Regions from separate parts of the Homo sapiens genome. Here region 1 is linked to region 2. A link means that fine-mapping ties the variant in region 2 to the expression of a gene that starts in the linked region. Tissue or cell type: whole blood. Region 2 holds a variant in brackets; the other region holds the start of a gene. All regions are shown on one strand. Distances are from middle to middle.

Evidence for each region. PIP is the estimated chance that this variant, and not a neighbour inherited with it, causes the effect.
Region 1: KCNMB1 starts here. The variant in region 2 is fine-mapped to the expression of KCNMB1 in whole blood (TOPMed, PIP above 0.99). The same link has a PIP of 0.9 or more in blood mononuclear cells.

Annotation. Positions count from the first base shown.
Region 1 is chr5:170,384,637-170,392,815 of GRCh38, reverse strand. KCNMB1 (potassium calcium-activated channel subfamily M regulatory beta subunit 1) reads left to right here and starts at 3,449. Exons shown (of 4, transcript NM_004137.4): 1 at 3,449-3,557; 2 at 7,345-7,502. The coding sequence starts at 7,369. It overlaps KCNIP1-OT1 (KCNIP1 overlapping transcript 1), which reads right to left and starts at 3,323. Exons shown (of 3, transcript NR_109899.1): 1 at 3,213-3,323. It also overlaps a transcript of KCNIP1 not described here. RefSeq lists enhancers at 153-653, 654-1,154, 1,407-1,907, 1,908-2,408, 4,333-4,833 and 1 more.
Region 2 is chr5:170,353,525-170,361,703 of GRCh38, reverse strand. It overlaps a transcript of KCNIP1 not described here. Among named protein-coding and RNA genes, the nearest start is that of LINC01366, 26 kb to the right of the region's middle. RefSeq lists an enhancer at 101-601. The variant A/T (reference allele first, on the strand shown) is at 3,645.

The DNA.
Region 1 (8,179 bases), 31 kb before region 2:
GTCTCACTCTGTCGCCCAGGCTGGAGTACAGTGGCTCAATCTCAGCTCACTGCGACCTCCGCCTCCTGGATTCAAGTGATTTTCATGCCTCGGCTTCCCAGAATAGCTGGGATTATAGGCACCTGCCATCGTGCCCAGCTAATTTTTGTATTTTTAGTAGAAACGGGGTTTCGCCATGTTGGCCAGGCTGGTCTCGAACTACTGGCCTCAAATGAACCGCCTGCCTTGGTCTCGAAAAGTGCTAGGATTACAGGCATGAGCCACCATGCCCTACCTAGATAAAGCATTTCTAAACTCTCCTGTAACACTCCATATAGCAATCTCAGGTGTTTTAATTCTCACTGGTTTAATCCTACCACTATCACCAGCAACTGTAACAGTCCCCCTTTGAAATCACTTGCAAGTGTGTTCCAGTTACTATGACTGCATAACAAATTACCCCAAAACGCAGGGGCATGAAACATTAGTTTTTTTCTTCTCGTGGATTTTGTGGCTCTGGAATTCAGAGAGAGCACAGAGCAGGTGGGCTGTCTCTGCTCCACATTCTCTGAGGCCTCAGCTGGGAGGCTGGCAGGCTGGGGGCTGGAACTGTCTGCAGGCTTGTTCTCTCCCATGCCCGGTGAGATTTGCTAGCTGTTGGCTGAGATCTGAGCTGAGGCTGTCAGCTGGAGCACGGGGCCTCGGCTTCCTACAACATGGTGGCTGGTTCCCAGGTACATGTCCCGAGAGCGTGTGGGGGGAACTCGAGCCCCCGTCTATGACTTAGCCTTGAACATCGTGCTGTGTCCTTCTACCATATTCTACTATTGAGGCCCTTACGAAGCTCCACCCAGGGTGAAGGGGAAGAGACATCAATGCCCCTCTTGATGGTGGAGTGTTGATGCCACACTGTGAAAAGGGCACATGGAATGGGAAGTATTTGGTGTGACCATCTTTGGAAAGGACAATCTCCATACTATGTGTCAGGTAGCTTAGGTGATCTCTCATTCCTCAAAAACACTGAGGGGCTAGGTATAATTATCTCTATTTTAGAGACAGACAAACTGAAGCTTAGAGAGGCAAAGTAACTTGCTTGGGCAATTTATTTCACCTCTCTGAGGCTCAGTTACTCCCTCTATCAAATGGGTAGAAAAATCTCCACCTCAGTGGTCTATTGTGAGCCTATTGTGCTAGTACCTTAAGAAGCTGTTGGAAGAGTCAGAGAAGATATTTTGTGATCTCTGACACCCCGTACTAATGCAAACCGTCAATATTTATTGTTGCAGCATTGTTATTTTCTTGCCCTCCACCTGTAGCCATCTGTCACACACAACCCCGCAGCCAGCAAAGGACCTGGGTTTTCACCCACAAACCCTCGAGGACAGGGCTTGTCAATGCCTTTTGGTTGTGGCTCATTTAGGGGGAGCAGAAGACCCCACGGCCCCCCTTCCCTGTTTGTTCCCACCTTCCCTTGGGAAGAATGCTAAAGTTTGTTTATGATTTCCAAATAATATGTAGCCCTTAATAACTTATTCAGAGTATCACGAGCAAGGAGCCCTTCGGTTATACTCATAAATGGCAGCCTGTTGCACTGTGTATCTCTCCCCCAGGGAAGCAGGAGGGGGGCCTGGCATTTCTGGATTAGCCCCAGGAGGACTTTTCCTGCTTCTGAGTGGACAGAGGATCATCCTTGGAAAATTGCTCTTCTGAGATTGAATTCCAGATCCTACATCCCTCTGTCAATCTGCCTGCAAGGTCTGAAGCTGGTCTTAGACCCTCTGGTGCTATGGTGCCCATTAAACAGACACTGTAGTCTCCTGTTAATAAGATTCAATTAGGAAAGGGGTGGAGAAGGGCACTCACCGCCTGAGAGTGTGTCAGGGAGGCCTGAGTGGCTGCCTTCATTTCGCGCCTGCTGGAGGCAGGAGGGAGGAAGGTGGTGAGCTCGCTCAGCAGGGAAGGCCAGGCTGCACCCACCTCCCTGGGGGCTGGGGAAACTCAGGGTGACCTCCAGAGCCTCAGGTGGCAGCTTACTGTATGATCGAGGTGATTTTTAATGTCTCAGAGCAGCCCCAGGGTCATCAGAGACAGACCAAGCTGTGCCATCTGGAAGGGCCAGCTTCGAATCTAGTTCTGGCCCCTAGGGTTGCACCAGTGACTTCAAGCCTCCAAGTCTCAGTTTCAGGTTCTTTGATTCTTGGGTCAAGTGAAGGGTGGAGATAAGCTGCCTTCTACCACCACGCCTGATACTTAGGAAAGCCCCAATATCTGGGATTGTTTTTGTTGTTTTGTTGAAAATATATATATATATATATATATTTGTTTTTTTTTTTTGAGACGGGGTCTCGCTCTGTTCAGGCTAGAGTGCAGTGGCACAATCTTGACTCACTGCAACCTCCGCCTCCCAGGTTCAAGCGATTCTCCTGCCTCAGCCTCCCAAGTAGCTGGGACCACAGGCATGCACCACTATGCCCGACTAATTTTTGTATTTTTAGTAGAGATGGGGTTTCGCCATGTTGCCCAGGATGGTCTCAAACTCCTGGGCTTGAGCAATCCATCTACCTTGGCATCCCAAAGTGCTGGGATTATGGGCGTGGGCCACTGTGCCTGCCCTTTGTTGCTGATTTTTAATCCTTACTTCCACTTTACAGATGAAGAAGCAGAGATCTAAAAGCATGTTTTTTGCCTGCAAATGCTGACATTCACTTGTCTTATTGCTAGGAAGAAATCTCTGTACTTTCGCGGTCTCTGGGAGGGCCCCTGGTGAGCAGACTGTCCCTGGACCTGGTTGGAAGCAGTTGTGGAGCTCTCACTACTCCCAGCTTCAGCTCAGTTGGTCCTTAAAAAGTCAGTTCTCTCCCCTTGCCATAAATCCCCACCGTCTCTAACTCCCATCACTACCCTAAAGCAAAGTAGGTTTTAAAAATGCCAGTAACACAAGTGAGAAAACTGAGGTCATTTAACGATAAGTTTGGGAGTAAAACCAAAAACAAAAAAGGAAACTGAGGCCCAGAGAGGTGCCATAACTTGCTCAGGGTCACACAGCACGTAAGTGCCAAAGGCAGGGAGCTGTAGCTGCTCCAGCGTGGATATGCCAGGGACTAGTGACAAGCCCAACCCCTCCAGCCCAACTCCACCCTTCCTCATGCCAACAAAAGGAGAATCATTTCCTATTTCTGGCATCTTTGCCAGCCCACAGAGACAGAGAGAAGAAGAAATATTTCCAAATATACCAGGCTGATCTTTCGTAGTTTCTCAGTCTTGCTGTCTGTTGTTGTTTGAAATCTGTTTCCCACGAGACTCTGGGAAGATGGAGGTGCAGGGCTTGGGTAACAGCTGCCTTCCTCAGGGCTGGGTACCTGCTCTCCGAGTCTGTGTCTCCAGGCTGTGTGCTCAGACTTGACCATGTTTGGGCATGGAGGCTTGCCCCAGATGGGGACCAAAAGCTGCTTCCCTGGAGACGGGCGGGGAGGCCAAACTTCCTGCTGAAGCTCTGTGGCCTCTTTTGGGGTGGGGGCGGGGGTCCAGGCAGAAAGAAACTGTCTGCTGCTCAAGACCCACAGGACGCCGGGAAGACTGTGAGTACCGGGCCTGAAAGCACTTGGGAAGTGATTTCTCTGAAGACCGGGCTGGAGGGAGACAGGGGAAAGCAGCCTGCCACGGGGCAGGGAGGGAGGCAGGCAGGAGGACTCCCTTCCTCTCGGGGCTGTCCTTCTGGATGGAGGGCCCGTGGTCTGGTGGCCAGTGGGGAGGGTGGCACAGTGGCCAGGTTACTCTGGTAGTAAGCGCCCTGGCCCTCTAGGTCCCAGTTCTCAGAGTGGCCAGAAGGCTGCAGCCTGGAGATTAACACCAATGCTGGCACTTGTCACCGGTAGAGAGGTGGGACAAAAATAGATTCATCAAGAGGGGTCCAGACTTCTGCTCCAAACTTTCAGGGTTTCCTTCGTTAGTAGTAATAGCTAATATTTACTGGGGGCTGATTTGGGGCTAGGTGCTATGATACATGTCTGATACTCAATATGGCATTTGATCTTTAGCTGAACTCTCTGAGGCAGGTACCATGGTTCTCGTTTCACAGTCATGTGGTTGCTAAGTGTAAGTGGCAGAGCCAGGATTTGATTCCATGTCTGAGGACCTCAGAATCGCCCTGTCCACACCCCACCAAACTGTTCAACAATGTACTCTATTCCTTGTCCTTCTAAGGAAAAGGATGTCGACCCAGCTATCAGGTCACCCAGGACACTCCAAAGTCCTGCCTTCCTTTGTCCTTCTCCATCTTCTCTGAATCTATCCCAGATCTCAAGTGACCTTTCTAAATGGGAAGATATATCCTGGAACTTCAGAGATATTTAGAAATGCTCAAAACTGGGAAGTTCTTCTTACAGTCTAACTGAAATCCCTCCTATGATAGCTGAAACCCACTTCTTCCTTTTCTTTCTGTCCCTTGGGGGATATTGACAGTTCCCATCCTTCCTCCCGCCAAAGGTTCTCCCTTTGGATGCTGAATACTAACTTCTTGCTGAAGTCATATCTACACTGAACCCCACGCATGGTCTTAGGAGGATTTATCATGACTCTATAAACTCACTCAGTGCAGGCAACAATCTCATCAGACCATTAGAGACGGGTCAGACCTGAATAAGCCAAGTTTCCAGACTTCTCTGTGACAGGGAAGCCTCTCCTTTCCTTTCCTTCTGAGCTCCTAAAACTGGTAAAACCAGGTTCCTGCCTTCACCAGCCTCAGGAGTGCCCAGGGGCCTGAGAGGGCACTAGAAGCCAAATAGCAGAGGAGGCCATGGCCCTGGGCGCTGGGGGGGGCTGATTAGCCAGGAAGGAGCCACAGGAAGCCCCCACAGGTGCGATCCAGTTCCCCCAGGAGAGAAATGGCTTTGTTGTGGGCACTCAGCCCTAGGCTTCCAAGATGGGATTTCCCATTGGCTTCAAATGATTTATGTCTCACAGTATCTGGGGTGGGGCCAAGTGCCAGTGACCCTTGCAGGTCCTGGGGAAGCAGGCTGTTGGGGCTTTTAGCTTACCTCCAGGTGATTCTGTTGCTTTACCTGTGAATACATGGAGAGTCTTGTTCAACTGACGCCAGGTAGAAAAAGGCATGGGCTCTCCCATTCCCACAAGATCACAGAACAGGAGGAAAAGGATTGAATAAAAAGAGTTGAATAAAACATCTCTCTTTGTCGGGGGCAATTTCTGCTTGCTTGTGCTTTTATAATGTCTCCATTAGAATGCAGGAGAAACTCACCTCCTGGTGCCAAATAAAGGAGAAAAAGTTGTCATTGGATGTCACCTCTGCCGATCGATAGGGGAGGTGGACCAGCTCACTGGGAAGGTGTGATGGGTATCCGTGGTGCCTGACCCTGGTCTCTTCCCTTTAGCGGAGATGCCCGGGTATGAGGGCAGCCTGGCTAAGGGGAGGGAGTCAAGAATCTCTGAATATTTGAAACAGTCTAGTAGTTAAGAGACGCCTGAGCAGAAAATAGAGCACTTTGCAGAAAATCTCTTTGGACTAAGGCCTGTCACCCGGACACTGGCTAATTAAACAAACAAAAACCATAATATGTTTATTACTTTAGGGACCTGGCAAGGAGAATAAAGTCCCCCTGATATCTGGCTAAAATTTCCCCTAAATTCCCCTAAAATTTCCCCTAAAATGGAGGATTACATTGATAGCTTCCTGGTATTTTTGGTAGAAATGGACTCTGGTTACTTTAAACAAATAAAAACAACAGCAAATAAATTTACCAGAGGCTCTAGGACAGCTTGCGGAACCATGGGAAATCACGCGGGGACCATGGCTGGGCATCTCTGTGGCTCCAGGCGGCATAGATTGAGGGGCTGTTTCTTGAAGTCTTTGTCAAGACTCACACTCCTGGGGGAGCGATCAGGAGCCTAGCAGGGGAGGGTGGAATCTTTGCTTGCATTGGGGTGGAGTCAATGTCCAGGGGAAAAACAAGGAGTTGCTGCCTAAAGAAAGAGGAGAGAAGGAAAGCAACCACCAGCAGAATGTGCCCATTCTGCTTTGTCCCAGGTGGCTTCAAGCCCTGAAATAAGAAAGCAGTCGCTGAGGCCACCATGATGCCTTCTTTCTTCTTTCTTTGCTTGAAGTAGGGGAATGTTCCTTACAAAAAAAAAAAACACCGGAATATGGTAAACCTCCTGCCTCTCCTGACAACCTGCAGCTGCCTTCTGGGGCCCTCCTCTCCTTTCCCTGCCTGTGCCCGGCCCAGCTAGCCCTGCCACAGAACTGTTTCTGGGCAGAAATACTCCAAGTATCCCTGTGAGATAAGTGCCGTGGAAGGAGGTGCATGGATGATGCACATGTACTGCTCGCTCACCGCATGGGACCTATGACTGTTGTAGCAAATGATCATAAACCTGACGGCCTCAAACGACAGAAATTTCACCAGAAGTCCAAAATCACCAAGGTGTCTGCAGGCTGCACTCCCTGCAGTGGCCGTGGGGGATGAGCCATTGTTCCTTGCCCCCGCCAGCTTCTGACGCACTCCTTGGCCTGTGGTCACATCACTCTAATTGCTGTCTCCCTGGTCATATCACCTTAGCTTTCTCATCTGTTTAATCTCCCTTCACTTCCCTCTTATTAGGACCCTTGGGATTACATTTAGGAGCTACATGGATAATCCAATATTGTCTCCCCATTTCAAGAGCCTTTATCTTTTTTTGTTTTTTGTTTTTTTTTTTGACGGAGTCTTGCTTTGTTGCCCAGGCTGGAGTGCAGTGGCGCATCTCTGCTCACTGCAAGCTCCGCCTCCTGGGTTCATGCCATTCTCCTGCCTCAGCCTCCCCTGTAGCTGGGACTACTGGCTCCCACGACCACACCCGGCTAATTTTTTGTATTTTTTTTTTTTAGTAGAGATGGGGTTTCACCATGTTAGCCAGGATGGTCTTGATCTCCTGACCTCATGATCCGCCCACCTCGGTCTCCGAAAGTGCTGGGATTTCAGGCATGAGCCACCGCACCTGGCCTTCAAGAGCCTTTATCTTAATCATTTCTGCAAAGTCATTGCCACATAAAGTAACATTGATAGCTTCCAGAGACTAGAACATAGACATCTTGGGGGGCCATTACTGAGCCTATTACATACTGTGTGACCTAGGGCAAGTCACTTTACCTCTCTGAGCCGTAGGTCTTTTATCTGCAATTGCCTCTCAATTGCACAGGGAAGGCTTACATGGGGTCCAAAAAGCAAGACTTCTGGAAGTTGCAAAGCTCCAAATATAAACAAGAGTGATATTAATAGTTGAGTACCTTCCCCTCTCACCTGTCCTCTCTTTCTGTGGATCACCTGTGAACTGGGCTGATCTCACTTCTGTTTGCTTCTGTGGACCTAGAAATGATCACTGCCCCCAGTGAATATGGTGAAGAAGCTGGTGATGGCCCAGAAGCGGGGAGAGACACGAGCCCTTTGCCTGGGTGTAACCATGGTGGTGTGTGCCGTCATCACCTACTACATCCTGGTCACGACTGTGCTGCCCCTCTACCAGAAAAGGTACTGAGCTCTCCCGGCCTGCCCACCCCCCAACCCTCTCCTAAGGGTCTGGCATCTGTAAGGAACCCTGGCCTTCTACTCACCCCTCTCCTTGACCCTCATTCAAGGCAGCAGGGTCAAGACGATGCTCATTCTTAGGTTCTAGGGTTCAAGTGCAGGGAAGGTAGGATGAACTGAGCCCCACTGGTCTGAGATTCTAGGACCTGGTGGTAACAGACACATGATCTAGGACGTGGTGGTAACAGACACATGATGCCCTTCTCAGAAGAAATAGCAAAGAATCAGAGCAAAGGTTCCAGTGCAAGTTTGATCCCAGGAGGAATCAGAGAATTGCAGATGTTTACAGCTCAGCTGCATAATTCTCTCCCCTCTGAAGCCTCCCTGTCAGGTGGGCATCCAGCCTCCTGATGAATACCTCAAGAGACGGGGAGCTCCTTGCCTCACTGAACATACATTTCATGTTTGAGGTTTTCTGATGTGTCTGCATTGAGCCAGCATCTGCTTCCCTGAAGTTCTGCTCAGGAATCTCAGAGAATGGTCCATGCCCTTGCTCCATGACATATCAACCACTTGAGATTTTAAGGAAAAGCTGTGAATTCCTAATTCGTGTTCTATTTGGAACAAAGACACTCAGTTCCCCCAGCCTGTCCTTAGGATAAGTCTCAGACCTGTGCTCT
Region 2 (8,179 bases):
CACAGTGCTAGCATCCTGATCTCAGACTTCCAGCTTCCAGAACTGTGAGAAATACATTTCTGTTGTTGATAAGCCACCGTGTCTTTGTATGGTAGCTTAGGCCATCAGGTTGATAAGCAGCCTGATGGCCTAAGACAGCAAGCAGTTGTGAGGATTTGGACTCAAACCCAGGTCTGGCTCCAAAGCGGGTGTTCTTCTAAGAACACAAAATGGAATCTCAGTGGCTTCAGCCAGAGGGGACCAAGGTTAGCTTTGTGTTCATGGTCCTCCTCCCCTCATCCTAACAGAGAAGGAAGGCTTTCTTCTGCCCCTAGACTGAAGACCTGTGACAGAGAGCGTGGTCAGTGGTGATAGTAAATGACTTCCCATGAGTCTTTTTCAGGAGTCCTGGCCTTTCTTTCCTCCAGCTGGCCCGGGAGGCCTATGCAATTTCCTCATTTCCACATCCTCTCCCCCAAAGCTCCTCTCCCCTGCTGCCTGCCTTTCAGTGGGGTCCCTCCTCCTGCACTTCTGGGTGGGGTGCAGGTGGACAACGGGGAAGAACCGCCGCCTCACCTGAGCACCTGGCCAGCTGTGATGCATAGGCAGTGTGGGCCTGCACCCAGGGGCAGTCCCCCAGCAGAGCATGAGAGCGGAATGGGGGCAGGAACAGGCCTTTGGTCTTGTTTGCACTGACCCTTGTCTCATCCAGGTCGTTCTGGCTGGTCACTGCTGTCAAACTCCAGCACAGGAATTCAGACAAGGGAGATAGGGAGTGGTAGGCTCCAGAGCAAGCCTGACTAAGACCAGACCTCAAAAAGGGAACTCCAGCCACATGGCCTGATGTTGCTCGGCAGGGAAAGCATTTAGTCGTTATTTATTCAACCTTCCTTCCTCGGCTGCAGGTGCTTGAGGCACTCACTCTAGGTGATTCCCACGTGGTGAACGTGGTGAACGCTTTCACAGGGCTCCCATTCTCATGAGAATGGATGACCAATTCTCCCATGAACAACTAAATAAAAAGGATCATTTCCATTGTTGGCACATTTTTAATTATAGAACTTGTCATCAAGAGTGACTGGGGGCAGGGGGGATAATTTTGAAATAGCAGCACATCTGGATAGGAGCTGGGAAGAGGACTTGACCCACAGAGGCTCAGCCTTGTTTCTCTTGGCTACAAATCCAAGGTCGTATCATAGAAAAGAAGGGTGGGGAACTTGACTTTTACTGAGCAGCTTGTATGAGCCAGGTCCTGTGCCTGTCACATGTCCCATCTCATTCCATCTCCAGTAGCCACATGAGATGGAAATTACTGGCCCATTTACGGAAGGACACAGACTCAAGATGGGGAATGGCTTGCCCAAGGCTGTCCTGTTGGTGCATGGCAGGGTTGGAGCCCAGGTCCCTCTGGGTCCAGAGTTTTCCCGCCCTGCATCCTGCTTCCTTCCACAGTGACTTCACATCGCCACTTCCACCCTTGGGAAGCAAAGGCTTTCAGGGATTTGGGACCTGGGTCTGCTGAGAGAGATGGCCCAGGGGAGATTCTGTAACCCTAAGAAGACTGGGGAAGATGAGGGTCCCTGTGGCATGGCAAAGGAGGCCCTGGACTTAGAAGGCTGATGAAGACCTGACTAGATCCACTTCTCCCAGGGCTGTGGTGTGGCAGCCTGAACTCTCCTGCCTGCCAGAGGGCCCCGTTTCCAGCTACTTTTAATTTGGAGCAAACTAGCCGCTCCCCTGTGGTCCTGAAGTTAATAGGATGTCTGTGCAGCAGTGCCAGGATAAATGGCCCTGAACAAATTACTCCTGCATGGTAACAGGGTTATCTAGGAGAAAGACCCGGAGGCTCCAGAGGGGCAGGTGATCCCTCCTTCTTCTCTGCCTTCTACTGTGGGACTATGGAGACCCTAGTGAGCTGAGCACCTGAACAACCCAAATGGGTCAGGGAATGCTGGGCCTGCTGCAGAGGGGCAAGGGTGGTGAGGCCAGTAGGCTGGGATGAAGGCTACTGGACATCAGGAGGGCCAAGGTGAACACATGCCCCTCCTGGCAGGCTCTAGCTTGGGGCTGGAGAGGTAGGCAGGGACCCAGAAGCCCTGGATAATCAAACTTTCTTCCTGTGACAAAGCACTGGCACTCAGAGGTTCCAGGGTTGCAGAGAGTGAGTGGGGCTGTTGTAACATGACCAGAGTGCTTGCTCAGCCCCTCACTGCCAGGACAGTGAGCGAGCCAGGACTCGGATGGTGGGGACTCTCTTTCCCCAGCAAGGGGCAGCATTGAAGCTTAGCTTTTCATGGGACAGGTGGCATTCTCCTCTTGGTAGAGGGATGATGATATCTCACAGGTCTCAAAGTCCCCAGTGTGAAGGCTTCTGCTTTCCCAGACAATTCCAGTAAACAGCTGCAACACCTCAATTCCAGCCTGCCTAGTGTCCAAAACTTTGTGTGTATTTTCCCACACCCAAGAACACTTCTCACACTTGGCCTGTAAGAAGGGAGAGCCATGGGGGAGTGGCCCTCATGGGACAGAGCCTACTCAGTGTCTGGCAGGTGCTTTGGGCCTGCACACCTGCCTGAGAGGTGATAGGGATACTGAGAGAGCATGGGTATGGCTGTCCTGCTGATCTTGGCCTCTGGAGTGTTCCCTTTCCCCATAACCCAGGTGATGACACTTTATGGAATTTGTCACAACCCTTTGCATGACAGGTGGCTGCTCTGATCAGACCCAGCAGGGAAAAACCCACCAACAGAATTAGTGGGACGCTGGGGGACTCTCTGCTGGTGGCAAGGTGGGGAGTAGTGCAGGCAGGCGTGACTTCTCCAGCCCTAGGAGTGCAGAGGAATGTACCTTGTCTTGGCTGCAGCAAGACCTGGGTTCTAATCCCAGCTCTGCCACTCACCAGGGGAGCCACGACACTTAGCTAAACCCCAGTTTCCTTACCTGCTGAAATGGTGATTGCAATCCCTACCTCCAGGATCAAGACTAGAAAGAGGCAAGGAAGGTGCCTAGGGCACAAAATGTAAGCGGGGGCGGGTGCCCTGCAAGAGCAGAGTTGGGATTTGCCTGTGAGCTGATATCTCTTACTCATATCATCATTACATTAAAAAACAGCCTTGTGCCATTGATATTATTATTATCTCCAATTAAAAGTGGGGAGCCTTGGCTTGGGGTGGTGTTCAAATGACACAACTTCACACAGCTGGTAAGAGGCAGAGTTGGTACTCCAGCCTGGCCTGCTTGAAGGCAGAGTCCATGCCCGGGTCCAAGGTCAGTCTCTTGAGGATCTTGAACAGCAGTGGGAGGAGGCAAGAGGAACAGTGTGTCACTGATGGGGCAGCTGAGGTTTTGCCTCGAAAAAAGAGGAACAGCCTGGGCCTGGGCGGGAGGGGAGAGTTACGGCTCCAGGGCCTTGTCCTTGAGATAGATCTCATCTTCCCACACCCCTTTTCCCCACCCCCGCAGCCTCATGGGTGGCCTGGAGGACACTAGAAGCTCTCCTGGATTGGATTCCTCCCTTCTGCTCACTTTGGCTCTGTCATCTGTGCCTGGGGTAACATTTGTTCCCAGTGCAGAAGGAGATGAGTTTAAACCTCCCCAGCCAGAATGGAGCCTGCACAACTTCTGGTTCCTGCCAGCGGCCCCCAGGAAGTCTGTGAGGCGGGTGG[A/T]GGGGAGCTGACTGTGCAGAAAGAGGAAGACGCAGGTTCCCCAGACCCCTGATTTCACCAAGCATCCGAGCCAGGAGCTGGGCTTCTCCTAGGTTAAACAGCAGGCGAGGACCTGGCTCTGGGAGTCAGGCTTTTAACTCCTAATAAGGAATCAGGTGAGGGAGATGGCTCTGGGTAGGCCCTTAAGAAAACAAGTTGAGCAGAGGGGAAGCAGTGGTCTAAAGTCATCCAGTGGCTGGACGTGGTGGCTCATGCCTGTAATCCCAGCACTTTGGGAGCCCAAGGCAGGAGGGTCTCTTGAGCCAGGAGTTTGACATCAACCTGGGCAACATAGTGAGACCCTGTCTCTATAAACAGTCAAAATTAGCTGGTTGTGGTGGTGCACATGTGTGGTCTCAGCTATTTAGGAGGCTGAGGTGGGAGGATTGCTTGAGCCCAGAAAGTCGAGGCTGCAGTGAGCCGTGATTGCATCACTGCACTCAGCCTGGGGAACAGAATGAGACCCTGCCTCAAAATAAATAAATAAATAAAGTCATGCAGTAACTGACAAGGCCATAGGCTTTCATAAAGTGATCATGAGATGTTGCTCTTAGAATCTGTGCCTGGTGCTGAGAAAACAAGTAATGAGTGAGAGGGAGTCCCAGCCCGGAGGGGCTCTCAACCATGAGAGTATCCGCTAATAACAGAAGTCATATCCATCAACACTACTGAGCACCTAATAGGCAGGGAGCTTTATCTGCACAATCTCATTCAACCCCATAAGAAGGGTATTGTAATTCCATTTTATAGATGAGGAAACTAAATGCCAGGGAGGTGAGGGACCCAGTCCGAGGCTTCCGAGCCACAGTGCAGGGTCCGGGGATGTCTCAGTCTAGAAACCAACTGTGCTCCTCACTGCATTCGTGGTTTGAAATTTTTTTTTTTTTTAATGCCAAAGAGATTCTTTAAATGTGGGAGAAATCCAGTAAATAAAACAAATAAAAATAGAGCCAGAGGGGTGGGAGTGGGGATGCCAGAAGCCTGCCCACCCAGCCTTTCCTTCTGGGAACAATCTTAATGCCCTTCCCTAGACACTATGCAAGCTCAGACCCAGCCTGAATGTTTTACGTGGCTGGAGGCTCACGCAGGCTGGAGGCTGGAGGCTGCAGACTCAGCTTGCTGCAGCTAAACAGACTTCAGAGAGCATTTGCTGAGCACCTGTGGGACAGGTGTTGCATAGTGCTTCCTAGAAAGCTCCTGTACCAGGGGTCATCTCAGGCTGACGGCTGGTGTCTGTGCCGTGCGGTGCCGTTGCATTCGTTTAACACGGTAACACACATACTCCATTCTGGGCCCCATGCTAGTAGCTCTGGCCACAGTGGTGAGCAAAAAAATGCACATGGTCTTGCCATGATGGAGCTGAAGTCTAGTGGGGAAGAGAGCCTTTAGCAAACATGTTCCTAAAGGGAATGCAGACCACAAATTATGATCAGGGATAGGAAGGAAAGTTCAAGGTTGATGAGATATGTGAGCAGGTGGACATGAGCAGTTTATCTCTGCAATAAGCGCTGATGAGAAATCTGGGCTAGCTGGCATCTTAGACAAATGGCAAGAAGGATTTCTGGCATGGCAGGAGGTGGCCAAGGGTTAGGAACAGGCAGGACAGGGAGGGTGATCCTGGACCCTCCTTGTCCCCCAGGTATTTGCAAGGCTGGTAAGAAACAGTAAATTGCCATAGAACAAGCAGGTACCTGGTCCAACACATTCTTTACATTCCTCAGTTCTGCAAGGGACAAAGAAAAATCCCTCTCCTGAGGGTTGGATTACTGCAAATCTAGAACTCAGTGCAATGAATAATGAATAAGTGAAATCAAATTAAAATCAGAAATCATTAAGCAATCATAATGTATCCATGTAGGGTTGAATCTAAATCCACCTAGGGGAGGTGTAAACATTAGAAAGCCGTTTTCTGGACTCTCTGCAGGCCTTTCTCAGCTACCCTGCTCCCAGCCTGGCCCTGCTCCCATGTTCCTCACTATTTAACAAATATTTAGCAAACACCTGGATCGGGTAGAACACCAGTCACCTAGCACGTGCCTGGCGCAGAGCCGGGGCTGTGTAAACACTTGGTCCTCTCTGCGGAGCTGAAGCAAAGAAGACAGATGCGGTTAAGACACAATCCTGCCCTGGTGCCTGCCATGGGCTGCCTCTCTGAGCCCTGGCCACAGGAAAGGCTGTACTGAAGCAGTTCACAGGAAGGCCAGGTCCCCACGGAGTCCCTTCTGTGTCACATGGATCTTAGTTTCTGGGATTCTGAGCAGAGAGAGGGAGGCATTCTGACTCTCCAGCTGGTTCCTTGCAGAGGCCAACACTCTGATGTTGCTCCCTCTGGCAGCTTCGGCTTCCTCCCACCTTCTCAGCCCTGCCTCTCCTCATCTCAGCTTAGATGTCACTGTTTGGAGGCACTCCTTAGTCTGCCCCAGACATCTCTTCTCTATGCCTGTTGACCCCCATGATTCCCCCATCTCAGCACTCAGTGTGGCATCCAGGGAGCATCTGTGTGTGGGGTCTGGGTCGCCACTAGACTGCAGGTGGGGACAAGCCCTCCATGAGAGGCTGCAATGGGTTGCTGCCCCACACCCATTACCCTCTTAGGTCCTGCTATCTGTAATGAGGAAAGAAAACCTTCCAGCTGTCTCTGAGGATTGAATGGGGAGACTTTGTGAAATTTCCTAACCCCTTTGCTTTCTCCTTCTCCAGGAGGTAAAGCCACTGAGAGCAATCACAGCTATACCCATTAACCTCCTGTTTACCCCACTTCTGGCCTCCAGGAATTCTGCCAGGCAGCCTGGCCCTCCACATTGGGGGCTCAGCCCACCTGGGTATCTTGGAAGAGCAGTGCCCCACTTCAGAAGGATGGTAGGGAAATAACAGGAAGGTCAGAACATCCCAAGGAAGGAGATAAACAGAATCCCATCATTCCCACCACCCACACATGCCACACAACGTACACTGGGCCAGACCCGCTGGGTGGCGGGCACCTGAGCCATGTCATGAGATCTGGCTGCATATAGCCTTTCTCTGCTCTCATTGTCATTTTGTAAAATCCCATCAAAGTTTTGTGGGCTCCTTCCCTGAATATTCTGCCTGCTGCTTCCAGTGCCTCTCTCCCCAGCCCCCAAAGACTCTTCCTGAAAGACAGCATGAATATTTAAAGACGTTTTTTCAGCCAGTGGAACCACATCATGCTGCTGCTCTCCCTTGACATCATCTCCACAAAGTTGGCCAGACCCCTCTGAGGGCCTCACCTTCCCTGGTGCCAAGTGTAAAATGGGGTTTAAGACACAGGACTGGGCCCTGAGGAGTTAGCCTTCTTTCTGCCTCCCGGCTGTGGGCCCATCTGGGGCTGCAGCCCTAATTCTGGTCCATAGCCACACTTTCTGATCTGCCCAGACAGTTACTCCTGCAAACCACCTGCCACCCCAGTTCCTGGAGAAGCAGAAAAGACAGGCATGGACATAGGCATGAAATGTGGAGGGACAGGGATCCAAGAAAGCAGAACGATGAATGAAGCCCCAGAAGCACGAGACGCTGGAACCCTATGAGAGGAGGCTCTTGGCACTTGAGGTGCAGAGCTGATCCGGTTTCTGAAGCCACCAGGGCAAAGCAGATGCCGGCCCATCACCACCTCCCACTGGCCCCCTCAAGCGTCTCTGTTCTGCAGAATTACTCACAACCCACTGCATCAAATCTCTCTTTTATCAACAAAATACAACCTTCCATGGATAACTTCTTGAAACTCCAGTCACGCTAAGCCACTTCCAATGCTCTGGAAAGGGTTCTATCCCTCTGCCCGCCCATAACGTATCAGCCACACACCACCAACTCCATTTCCAAAGTTCCAGGCAATTACAGCCAGCTGAGTTCCCTGGCTGGGTGCCCGCCTACTCAAAGCCAGGACGCAGGTTGTCAGCAACCTCGAATCCCAGCCACCAATTTCCCCAGCTTTTTCCAAGACCTGGGTGCACCAGAATGGTCACGCTCACCACACCGAGGCAATGCGACCAGCCAGGCCATATCAAGACAGAAAGCAAGGGTCAAGGCCAGTTTCCATACCTTTGCTGAGGGTCCCAGTGATGAGCTTAAAGATGGTCTGGGCAAATTTCACGAACCCAAGCTTGCATCTTTTGGAGCAGCCGCTCATGGTGGCGGAGGGGAGCCAGGCTCTGCTGTCAGCACCCAGAAGGGACAGTGCCCACCTTGTGCACCCCAGGAACTTGGAGCCTGCCTGGGTGAATGAACCCTGAGTGACGGATGCACCCCTGAAGCCAGGCTCCGGGAACAGCACAGCTGCCTCTGCAGCGAGTCTGGCTTCTGCATCCAGAGAGCCTGCAGGGCAAACTCTCCCTCCCTCTCTCCACCCACTCCTGCTGTCCACTTAAGTCCTCACCACGGGAGGACCTCAGGATGCCAGGGCCGGGACAGCACTGCCGGGGCACAAGGTACTCCAAGGGAACCGAGGAGGAGAGTGAAGTTGAGCAGAGCAGGGAGGGAGG